3 linked regions of the Homo sapiens genome follow. The protein of the gene in region 1 purifies or fractionates together with the protein of each later gene. This does not show direct contact. Each region holds a gene or a part of one and is shown on either strand. Other genes may lie near its edges. The genes, in order: FGD1, TAP2 and HP1BP3.

Region 1 (3,729 bases):
GATGGCTTCAGGGACAAGCTGACTTCAAGGTCAGAGAGGAGCCTTACTGCCTCTAAATTCTGGCCACAATGGTGGGATTGAACTCAGGCCCTATCACTGCCTCCTTGAAACGCACCTACAAGGTCCTGGGGCCCTCGTACCCCCAAGGGGCCACTCACCTGATCCAGGAGATGGAGCCTGGAAACGTAGGCCTTCTCAGTTTGCAGGAGCTCATTGGCAATGTGAAACACCTTTTGCTGCACAGTCAACTGGAAAGGAGAAACAGTAACCCCTGATCCATCATCCTCTATCGTAACCCTCACCCAAGCCCCCAGAATTCTTAAAACAGTTCCCATGCCACTCTAAGCCTAATACCACCCTAGGATAACCTTGACCCCCATCTCTAGATCTGTAAGTCCTTCAGCTTCATCCCTGAGTCCCCAGTCTACCATAAAGCCTACCCCTCCATTCTGATGACGTGCACTCCCTCACTCAACAACTCATTCACCCGCTCTCTCTATTCACTCAGCAGAGTGTAGTGGTTAAGCATGTGGGATGGTAAGTCAGACTTCCTGGGTTCAAATCCTAAGCTCTGCCATTCACTAGCTTGTGTAAGTTCTTTAACAGCTCTGTATTTAGGACGCCTCATCCATAAATACAGATAATAATAGAATCTATTTAATGTAGAGGCTGGTGAGAAACAAAAACAAAACCAAAACAAAATAATAATAGGACTGAAGTCCATTGGTAATGGAGACAATTAGATAATTTAATATAAATAAAACACATCAGACTACAGATTAAATGGTATATAAATGTTAATTAATCATTTATTCACCCACTCAGTACACTATCAGCAAGGGCTTGCTGAGTACCTGGGGTGTGAGAAAAGCACAAAAGTATAAGAACGTATAAAACTCATTGCCTGTTGGCCTAGTTTCCTATTCCTTAGATATATGTGTTGACTACCTGCCATGCCGGCAGTCCCTGGCTTTGGCCCCTACACTTGAGCTTGGTCCTAGCAGAGCAAGTATTCCGGCTGAGATCTAACTCAAGTGCGATGGTGCCTTCTGAAGAAATGTTAGGCTGCCCGGGCACAGAAAGGGGTCTCTGCTGCCAAGAGCCTTCATCTGCACAGCCTCGGGCCCCTGCAGGGCTCTAGCTCTTGCGCCCCTCCTCCAGCTGTTGAGAAGTCTCTATGGATGTAAGTAAGAGACTTTCCGTATTACAAATAAGGAAACTGAGGCTTATGGTAGGGAAGCAGAAAGGGAAAAGACTTGCCCAGTGTCACAGAGCTTGGAAACAAGGTCCTATTTCGAGAAATACTGAGCTAGGGGAAGAATCAAGCACAAAAGGCGCTTCCAGGTTCTCCACATGGACCTGCCTCTCGGTGAACACAGGTCAGTACCTCCACAGACTCCTGTCTCTCCATCAGGGGCACTGGGATTTCTCTGTCCTTCTCTTCCTCCTCCTCCTCGTCGTCCTCCTCCTCCAGGTCACTGTCAACCTCTTGGGAGCCAGGCCGGTGGGGGTCGGCCAAGGCAACAGGCACACTAGCCAGGGCAGGGGGCCCAGGGCAGAGGCTGTGGCTGGGGGGCCCGTCATCACTGACGAAGCAGGTCTCCTCGCTGTTGGATGGCGAGCTGATGCTATCAATGCCGCTGTCCCGGTTGGGCACCTTCTCACCGTCCCGGGGCCCAGGAGCCAGCAGAAACAGGCAGCGGGAGGCCTCACCCTCGGGGAGCTGGGGCACTGGTGGCTGCGAGGTTGGCTGTGGCAACATGACTGGCTCTGGGGGACCTGGGCTGGGGCCAGGGACTGGTCTATCCGAGGCGACAATCACAGGCTCTCTGAGGTGGGTGGTGGACACACATGGAAGCAGGGTATGAGCTTGACTGAGAGGCCTCTCCTGACTATCCCTTCCTGTCCCAGGCTCCCCCTTTCCCCTAGAGGGTGCCCTAGGGACCAGACTCACCTTTCAAACTTCTCAATCAGTGAGGATACTGCTGCAGAACTGGGGCTGGCCTCTGCCCTGGGAGCCAGGCCCTTGGCCACTCGGGGGTCGGCAGGCAGTGGGCGTGATGGTGGAGGGGGGATGGGCTCCAGTGGGGGGGGCATCCGGGGCATCTGCAGGTAGCTGGGCTTTGGGGGCACTGGAGAGACGAATGGGGAAGAGAGAAGGGAGACATCAGTGAGCTGGATTTGAGCCTGGCTAACATGGTGAAACCCCATCTCTACTAAAAATACAAAAATTAGCTGGGCATGGTGGCACGTGCCTGTAGTCCCAGCTACTTGGGAGGCTGAGGCAGGATAATTGCTTGAACTCAGGAGGCGGAGGTTGCAGTGAGCCAAGATCATGTCACTGCACTCCAGCCTGGTGACAGAGTGAGATTCTGTCTCAAAAAAAAAAAAAAAAAAAGCTGGATTTGGAGGTGGCTGGCTGTCATGGCCAGGCCACAACCCCTTCCACAAACACCAATCTGCACCTTTGCCTGAGGTAGACACAAAGGGGCTAAGGTGAGATCACAGTATGCACACATTAGCCTCAGGCCACAGCACTCTGTGCACTAGGTAGGTAGCACTGCCCTGGGAGCATGGTGGCTCCCTATCCTTCTAACAAACCCTCTTCTCTGCCACTGGCTAACTTCTCCCCTCCTCTGTACCCTCCCCTGGGCCACTTCTCTGCTCTTTTCCAGGACCACTTACCCTGTGGCTTCGGGCCCGGTGCCCGCTTCAGTGGTGAAGGACGCTGGCTAGGGGTTTCAGTCGGGGGACCTGGGTCTGAGCGAAGCCGCTGGGGACCTTCTGGATGAGGCTCTAGGCTTTGGCCAGGGTCAAGGGACAAACTTTTAACCAGGATCCGGTTTCCCTGGTGCAGCCCTGCAGGAAGGGAGAAAATGGGTGTGAAGTAACTGACTTTAACCCAAAGGGGACTGGGGTTAAAGTTAGGACTGGCATGTCTTAGCAGCTATCTGGGGTATTGGGTTTCTCTGAGCCCCTTTCCTGGCCACAGTGTTTTTCTGGGAAGCCCCTATCCTAGCCCTCAGATGGAGAGCCAGACCCAGGGCTGGGGCTGGCTGTTTTCATCAATAGATAAGAATTCTTTGTGACTAGTGCATTGATTCCATGTATGTCAGCAGGCAGTATCACTAGGGAGTTTAACCAGGCTGGGGGTGGCTGTGAGCACCCTAAAGTTTATACATGCGTTTGCAGCCCTTGTTTCTACAGCCACATAGGTATGCTGAGTATAAACCATTCTTCAACGCTTTTGTTAAGGCCCTGAGAATATCTAGACTTTCTTGTTTACAATTTTGTGCAGCTAAGTGTGCTTAAAAATGATGAAATTGTGTTTCATGAGCAAGTTTTGCTTCTTGAAATCCCAACTTCTGGCTGGGCACAGTGGCTCATGCCTGTAATCCCAGCATTTTGGGAAGCTGAGAAGGGAGGATTGCTTGAGCTCAGGAATTTGAGATGAGTTTGGGCAACAAAGTGAGACCCTGTCTCTACAAAAAATATAAAAGTTAGCTGGGCAGTGTGGTGTGCACCTGTATTCCCAGATACTTGGGAGGCTGAGGTGGGAGGATCACTTGAGCCTGGGAGGTGGAGGTTGCAGGGAGCTGAGATCACCCCACTGCACTCCAGCCTGGACAAAAGAGCAAGACGCTGTCTCAAGAAAAAAAAAAAAAAGAAGAAAAATGAAAAAGAAAATCCCAACTTCTCAGCAATCTGTACTACCTTCCTCAACTTCCA
Region 2 (4,054 bases), on another chromosome or scaffold:
ATTTCTCATTCTGATTTTCCAATATTTTAGACAGATTTGTTATTGTTGTTTGTGTGTGTGTTTATTTTTCTCATCTTTGCTCCCTTATCCTTCTGGGTTTAGTATCTCTGTTACTTACATGATAATATTAAAAAGCAAATGATAACTACAATACAATGCTACTTTCACCCAGAAGATTGTCAAAATTTTAAAAATTAACACTGTCTGTTGGTTATATACATATATATATATATGGAGAAACAGATAAACTCATATGTTGCTGCTGGAACTATAAATTAATATAGCCTCTATGAAGGCAATTTTGCAATATCTATCAATATTTGTAATGTATATATTGGACTCAGCAACTCCCCTTTAAGATTGTATCATACTTGTATTTTTGCACATGTGCATTACAATGTCTATACAAGACTAACTAGCAACAGCAAAAGACTTCCAATAACCTAACTAGCCATCAGTAGAAGGAAACAGGATAAATGAAATATGGAACTTCCATAAAATAGAATACTACATAGCCATATATTTTTAATTTAAAAAATAAAGTTCAGAACAGTGAACTTAGACAGCTGCTGTTTGCGAAAATACTGAGCAAGAATAAAGATATACATATTTGCTTAATACACAGTAAACTTCTCTGGAAAGATAAACACAAAGCTGGAAGAACGGATTGCCTATGCAAGAGGAATTAGCAAACCTTGAGAAGGATTGAGAGTGAGGCTTTCCTCTGTATACTTCTTTGTGTCTTTTGAATTTCAAACCACATTCATATATTGCTTATTTAAATAAATAAATAATATATTTTAAAAAGAGGATAGTAGGAAGATAAGTGGAGTCAGGGAGTATAGGCAACTCTTTTGAGGAGTTTTATGCAAAGCTGGGCAAGTCCACCTCTTCCTTAGCTATGTGACCCAGGCAAGTTAGTAAATGTTTCTAAAACTCCATTTTCTCACTCTTAGAATTGAGATAGTAATACCTGCCACATAGAATTATCTTGAAAAATAAGGTAAGAAGACAGGTTTCAGATACTTGGCACAGCAATAGCACATAGTAAGCACCAGTGAATGCTTAGTAGTAGTAGTAGTCTAATTCCTAAGAGTCCATGGAACTCTAGGTTCAAAACCCAGTTTCTTCTGGGACCATTAGATGGCATCAGACTCAAGCAGGTGCTCCTCTAGCTGACAGCTCTAAAACACAAGGAAGATCTTTGTTTTCCTTATTCCCTAGTCCTTTCCCCACAAAATTCTGACAATTACGCATTTCCTGCTTGTTTCACAATTGCCATGTGGATTACAAGTGGCTATCCCTGGGTGGAGGCATAAAGGACTTGAAACTCAATGCTGTTTCCACATAGGGCCGGGCAGACAGGCTATGGAGGTGTTTTGGCATCCAAGGAAATCTATCAGTTTCCCAAGCTTTCCCCTCTCCATTCATACTTTCCTTTAGAAAGAATAAGGCATGCCTGGGTGGGAAAGATACTGCAGGTAAGCGACAAGAAGGGGAAATTACAGGGTAAGGAGATCAATCAAATGGTGATGGGGGGTAGGAGTGAACAAAAAGAACTCTGGAGCAAACCAGGATTAGTGACATCTGTGGTTCCCAGACAAACCACACTTACAGGAATTTGTCTGTCTAGCCCGAATATTTTGACTTTCAGGGAGCATTTTTCTGTGTCCCTGACATAAAGCCTACCTGGGAGTTTCCCCTGAGATAAGAAACTTTCAGGACATCTTAAGGTCTACTGCATCTTCCTGTACTGCCCATCAAGATAAGTTTTCCACCCAGCTTTATCATGATTAGCTGCGTGATTTCATGTCAGTTTCTCTGTAAAATTAGGTTTGACTGTTGCATTATTTTTAAGATGCCTTCCAGGCTTAAAGTATTATGATGCATGGGTATAACTGTACTGAGGAAATCAAAGAATTTCTCAGATCATCTTCTTCTGTGAGGGCTGCAGCTTCCATGTAGTTGGGAGATACAGGAATTATTATTCCTGTTTTATGAATAAAGGACATTTGTGGGAGAGAAAGGAATCAGGCCAGAGTTCTTTCTCTCCAAATGCCTATTTTACCCTCTGTGAAATTTGAGAGATGGATGGGTGTGGAGCTGCAAGTCAGCCCCAGGATGAAAGAAAGGCAAATCTGCACAAGAAACTGCCCACTCTCACCCCATCCTCACTGCACCCTGCTCCCAACAGCTGCCAGGCAAGAAAAAATCCAAAACAGCAGTTCTGGGGAATTCATTGCCAGCACTGGAAACTACCTGCTGTTTCCAGGAATATGAAGGTTTCTCTTTCCTAGAATAGCAACTTTCCAAGGTAAGTCCCTCCCAACAACCAGTGATGTGTACAATGTTGCATTTTCAGTGGTGGGAGTGGGCAGGGAGGATTAAGATTAGTACGATGGTGGAGATATTTATTCATTTATTCAATTGACTATTTATTCTCCACTATGAATTAGGCCCTCGGCCAGGTAGCAGATATAAAGCTTAATAAGATATATGGCTTTCCGCCCAGGTGCTCATGGTCTAGTGGAAGGTCAAAAAAGGTGGGAAAGGGAAGATAGAACTTTAAAAGGGCTGTGAAAGAGGTAACCGCACAGTGATAGAAGCACATGGAGAGTTCCCCAGACTGACGACATAAGTAAGGCCTCCTGGAAGACCTGAACCCTGAGTTAAGTCTTGAACTTGAAAATCAGGGGCGAGTCGAGCAGAAAATGGGCAAGAAAACACCATATGCAAAGGCACAAAGGTGTTGGGGAAGGCAGAAGTTTGTCGTGGAGCTGGATACAACAGGAGAGGGTGAGACAGATGGGCTGGAACAGTGTGTGCTCTGAAAAGGATCTCTGCAGCAGGGCTTGAGAGCACCTGAAGGAATTTCCAGAAATGCCATCATCGTATGTGACACAGAATTTAGAAAAATGACTTTGTGAAGAATGGCCGGAAGAGGGAAGCTAATGGTAGAGAAACCTCTCTGGTGATGGGATCATCTTAAGTCTATGAGTGAAGACTATAACAACGGGACTGGAGAGAAGAGAATAGATTCTGAATTATTTAGAGCTAAGAGCAGCAGAGCTTTTCTTGATGGGATTATGGATTAGGGTTTATGGACCCAAGATGCAATATAATTGATTGGGTCAGGGTGTGGACTCTAGGGTCAGGCCTGTGTTCAAACTCCAACTCCACCACTACGACCACCTTGGGAAAGTCATTGAGCCTCTTTGAGCTTCAGTTTCCTCATCTGTAAAATGGGGATAATAACCAACCTCATAGGGTTGGGGATAATGATTAAAAACGATAATACATGAAAAACACTTAGCATAGCTCCTACTCCCATTAAAACTCTATAAATGGTAGCTGTTACCAATGTCGCTATTAATACTGTTAATCAGGGAACTGTTCTCTGTCCCTCCAGACCCTAGCTTCTTCAAAATAGCAGACACTGGTAGGAACAAGGAAGGATATAGGAAGGCAATCTCATGAATATTTATGTCATTTTTGGTTAATTTCTATCTCAAACAACAGATAAACGACTGATGGGACAGGCAGCAAAATAGCAACTATGGTTATCTCCAGGAAGTGAAACAATGGGTACTTTTACTTTTCTTCTTTGTACTTTTTTATATTGTCTAAATTTTCTATATGAATGTATACAGTTCATGTAAGAAGGAAAATATTTTAAAATATATGTATTATGCCACAAAATACTCCTCATCACCAGGCAAAGCTCTAGTCACCAGGGAATTAAGTTTCCTGGACACAGACAGCCCCCACCCCACCCCACCCCACCTCTCTACCCCACCAAAAGCACACAGTGTCCAAATCTCCATCGTGCCTGCAACTCAGGAACAGCTATCTGGCCGCACAGCTCTAGGGAAACTCAAAGCAGGAACAGCTCTGGGTCCTGGAGACGCCCCTGAGAAGAGGGCCCAGTATCCCTGGGGCCTCAGTCCATCAGCCGCTGCTGCACCAGGCGGGAATAGAGGTCCTGTCCCTCCTAGAGCTGGGCAAGCTTCTGCAGCTTGCCCTCCTGGAGCACCAGGATCTGGTGGGCGCGCTG
Region 3 (3,500 bases), on another chromosome or scaffold:
CGTATTTTGAACATACATATAAAGTTATGCCAAATCTATAAAAGTCCTGCACCATACCTAATTCTATACCCACTATTTAATAAAATTAATCCATAGTCATTTATTTAGTAAACAATTACTTAAACTCCTAATATGTATCTGGCACTGTATTAGCCAATGAGTACACAGCAATGAACAGTCTGCATGGAATACACACTTCAGCCTCATAATACTGGCAAAAGACCTCCAAGTCTTAAAAAAAAAGACCTCAAAGGCCTAAATCTGTTCAAAGCTTCAAAGGTATTCGGCAAGGATCTCCTAAACTCTTTTTTGTCCTTGGTGGTATGAACCTTGATTCCTTTGATTAACATATCCTTAAATGATAACATACATACATATATGTGTGTGTGTGTGTGTGTGTGTGTGTGTGTGTGTGTGTGTTTCTTGCCTTTTTCAGACACAGGGTCTTGCTATGCTGCCCAGGCTGGAATCAAACTCCTAGGCTCAAGGGATCCTCCCACCTCACCTTCCCAAGTAGTTAGGACTACAGGTGCATCCCACCACACCTGGCAGAATGTAACATTTTGTGTGTGTGTGACTTTGGGAATTAAATTTAATGTTTAATGTTCGAAAAATTTATATAATATGTATTAAGCCAAGTAACACTTATGTTTGTACAGAAATAATAATATAAGAAAGTTACACAATAGTCTTGCTAAAACAGGGTCTTAGTGGTATATGTTATGTACTTTACTGGAAATCAAAAGGCTTTAAACCCAGTGCATGAAACAATGCTTGGACCACAGGAGGTGATCAATATATTTTTTTGTTTCAAAGAATAAATAAGGTATTTGCAAGAAACAAATTTTCAGATAAGTGTTCCTGTCTCTACAGTATGGAGGTAGAGTTAAGATTCTTGAAAACAGTCAATGTTCTCCCCACTTGGTATTGGACAATTAAAACTTATGCATATAATCCCATCACTTTGGGAGGCTGAGGCGAGAGGACTGCTTGAGCCAGGAGTTCAAGGCCAGCCTAGATAATATGGTAAGACCCCCATCTCTACAAAAAACACAAAAATTAGCTGGGTGTGGTGGCGCGCACCTGTAGTCCCAGCTACGTGGGATATTGAGGTGGGAGGATCACTTGAGCCCAGGAGGCGGAGATTGCAGTGAGCCGAGATTATACCACTGCTCCAGCCTGGGCGATAGAGTGAGACCCTGTCTCAAAAAACAAAAACAAAAACTTATACATAATCCTCTAAGAATCTGTCATTATCATTTACTTGATAAAGAAGGAATGAACATCAAAATGACCATCCGAGGATCTCAAATAATCTTATGCCTGGCTAAAATCACTATTTTTATACAAAACCTTTTACTCCAAAATAATACTGCCTTAAAAGTCATCTTTATTTTCAAATACAGTTGTCCCTTGAACAACACAGGTTGGCAACGCATTAGCCCACTTTATATGTGGACTTTTTTTTTTCAACCAGACACAGATCAGAAATACAACATCCACAGGATGCGAAGCCTGCATACAAAGAGGACAGACTTTTCAGATACATGGATTCCACAGGGCTGAGTACATGCGCATTTGGGTATGCGGGCAGTTCTGTAACCAATCCCCTATATGTAACAAAGGACGACTGTATTTCCAGTTCACTAAAACAGTAATAAGGGTAAAATAAATTAAACTGAGTGTGTAACTTAGACTATAAATTTACAGTGATCTATTATAGGCTAAGTACTTACCTGGGATAATAGGGAAAACAGAGCTGGAAGGTGCCACTGAACCCTTTCCCAGAGATCTGTTCCATCCACCCATTCTTTTCGCATTTCTGCAGGGTTTTTTTCAGCAAATGCACTGAAAAAAAAAATTCAGAAATGAAAGTTATCTAGTTATTCAGATTAGATAATTCCCTCAACCACAAACAGATGCCCATCAATTTAATATCCTGTCACATACGGTAATTGACATACACTAAGTGAATCCTATGTGTTCAAAGGTATTTAATTAAACATTTACTTATTGCCCATAAGTTTGGCAAGAGTTAAATTATATACATACATACATACATATATCTATATTTTAAAATTTTGCAAAATATAGAGACAAAGTCTCACTATGTTGCCCAGGCTGGTCTCAAACTCCTGGGCTCAAGCAATACTCCCACCTTGGCTTCCCAGACTGCTGGGACTCCAGGCATGAGCCACCATACCTGGCAAGAGTTATAATGAAAAGACACATTAGAGACCATTGAGTCAAATACCTTATTTCACAGGGAAAAAAAAAAAGCCCAGAGTGGTTAAGTGACTTGAGCTCAAAGTAGTTAAGTGACTTGCTCTAAGGTAGCACATAAACAGCAGACCTAAAACTAAGTATTTAATTATTTCCATTCACTTAAACATCTATTGTGTACCTATAGGTATTGATAATCATCTAGGAGAATCTCTTATAAAGATGAACAGAACTAATTATTCATAAATCAGTAAACAGTAACAAAACAATATCATGGTTCCTGAAGTCCTTCATTCTCATCTTTCTTACAGAGACATATCCAAAATATATTTTATGGTGATTCAGTATCCAAAAAACAGCTGCAAATATCAGTGAAACTGAAAGGCTTGTTAACCAAATTCATCTTCTCTTAAAACATCTGGCATATAGAAATAGGCCGGGCGTGGCGGCTCACGCCTGTAATCCCAGCACTTTGGGAGGCCGAGGCCGGCAGATCACGAGGTAAGGAGATTGAGATCATCTTGGCTAATACGGTGAAACCCTGTCTCTACTAAAAACAAATAATACAAAAACAAAAAAATTAGCCAGGGGTGGTGGCAGGTGCCTGTAGTCCCAGCTACTCAGGGGGTGGAGGTAGGAGAATGGCGTGAACCCAGGGGAGGCGGAGCTTGCAGTGAGCCAAGATCGCACCACTGCGCCCCCCAGCCTGGGCAACACAGCGAGACTCCGTCTAAAAAAAAAAAAAGACTTCAAAATTACCTTTTAATTACAATAATATATTCTGGATTGTCTTCTTCTGTTACTTAATTTCCATATCCCTCACCCTACAACATTGTGCCTCTTCTAATAGTTCATTGAGAAGTCACCCAGTCTCACCAATCCACACGATAATGCTGATAAGGCAGGGTGTCTCATCTCAAATCACCACCTCCTAGAGTAAATATACTTTACTGAAATAAAGTATTGTCTGTTGTGGGGCTTAGGTTAATAAGAAATAATATAAGTAGTAAGTACTCTAAAATCCTGGCTTTGTTTCAAAGTAAAATTAGATGTTTTTGGTGAACATTCAAAAGTAGGAAAAAATACACTATAATTTAGAGTTGCTTTGAACCTAGAGATTTATCTAAATTACAATAAATATCAGAAAAATCTTTACAGTAAAAGCAACTTCTTATAAGCAGATGCTTTAAATTAAGAATTCAGTTTTGATTATTTGTTTTTCTTTTTGTAAATATGAAATTTGTAAAGCTGTTCCCTCTTGGTTTTCAGTCAGTAGT

What was found.
Region 2: the proteins of FGD1 (region 1) and TAP2 purify together in Homo sapiens (affinity purification with mass spectrometry; one large-scale study listed by BioGRID and IntAct). This does not show direct contact.
Region 3: the proteins of FGD1 (region 1) and HP1BP3 purify together in Homo sapiens (affinity purification with mass spectrometry; one large-scale study listed by BioGRID and IntAct). This does not show direct contact.

What each region holds. Positions count from the first base shown.
Region 1 is NC_000023.11:54,468,629-54,472,357, forward strand, and holds part of FGD1 (FYVE, RhoGEF and PH domain-containing protein 1), read right to left. Parts: intron 2,860-3,729; coding exon 2,686-2,859; intron 2,133-2,685; coding exon 1,955-2,132; intron 1,830-1,954; coding exon 1,388-1,829; intron 249-1,387; coding exon 159-248; intron 1-158. UniProt on the Homo sapiens protein: Activates CDC42, a member of the Ras-like family of Rho- and Rac proteins, by exchanging bound GDP for free GTP. Plays a role in regulating the actin cytoskeleton and cell shape.
Region 2 is NC_000006.12:32,824,915-32,828,968, forward strand, and holds the end of TAP2 (antigen peptide transporter 2), read right to left. Parts: coding exon 3,992-4,054; 3' UTR 501-3,991; downstream 1-500. UniProt on the Homo sapiens protein: ABC transporter associated with antigen processing. In complex with TAP1 mediates unidirectional translocation of peptide antigens from cytosol to endoplasmic reticulum (ER) for loading onto MHC class I (MHCI) molecules.
Region 3 is NC_000001.11:20,745,808-20,749,307, forward strand, and holds part of HP1BP3 (heterochromatin protein 1-binding protein 3), read right to left. Parts: intron 1,849-3,500; coding exon 1,737-1,848; intron 1-1,736. UniProt on the Homo sapiens protein: Component of heterochromatin that maintains heterochromatin integrity during G1/S progression and regulates the duration of G1 phase to critically influence cell proliferative capacity.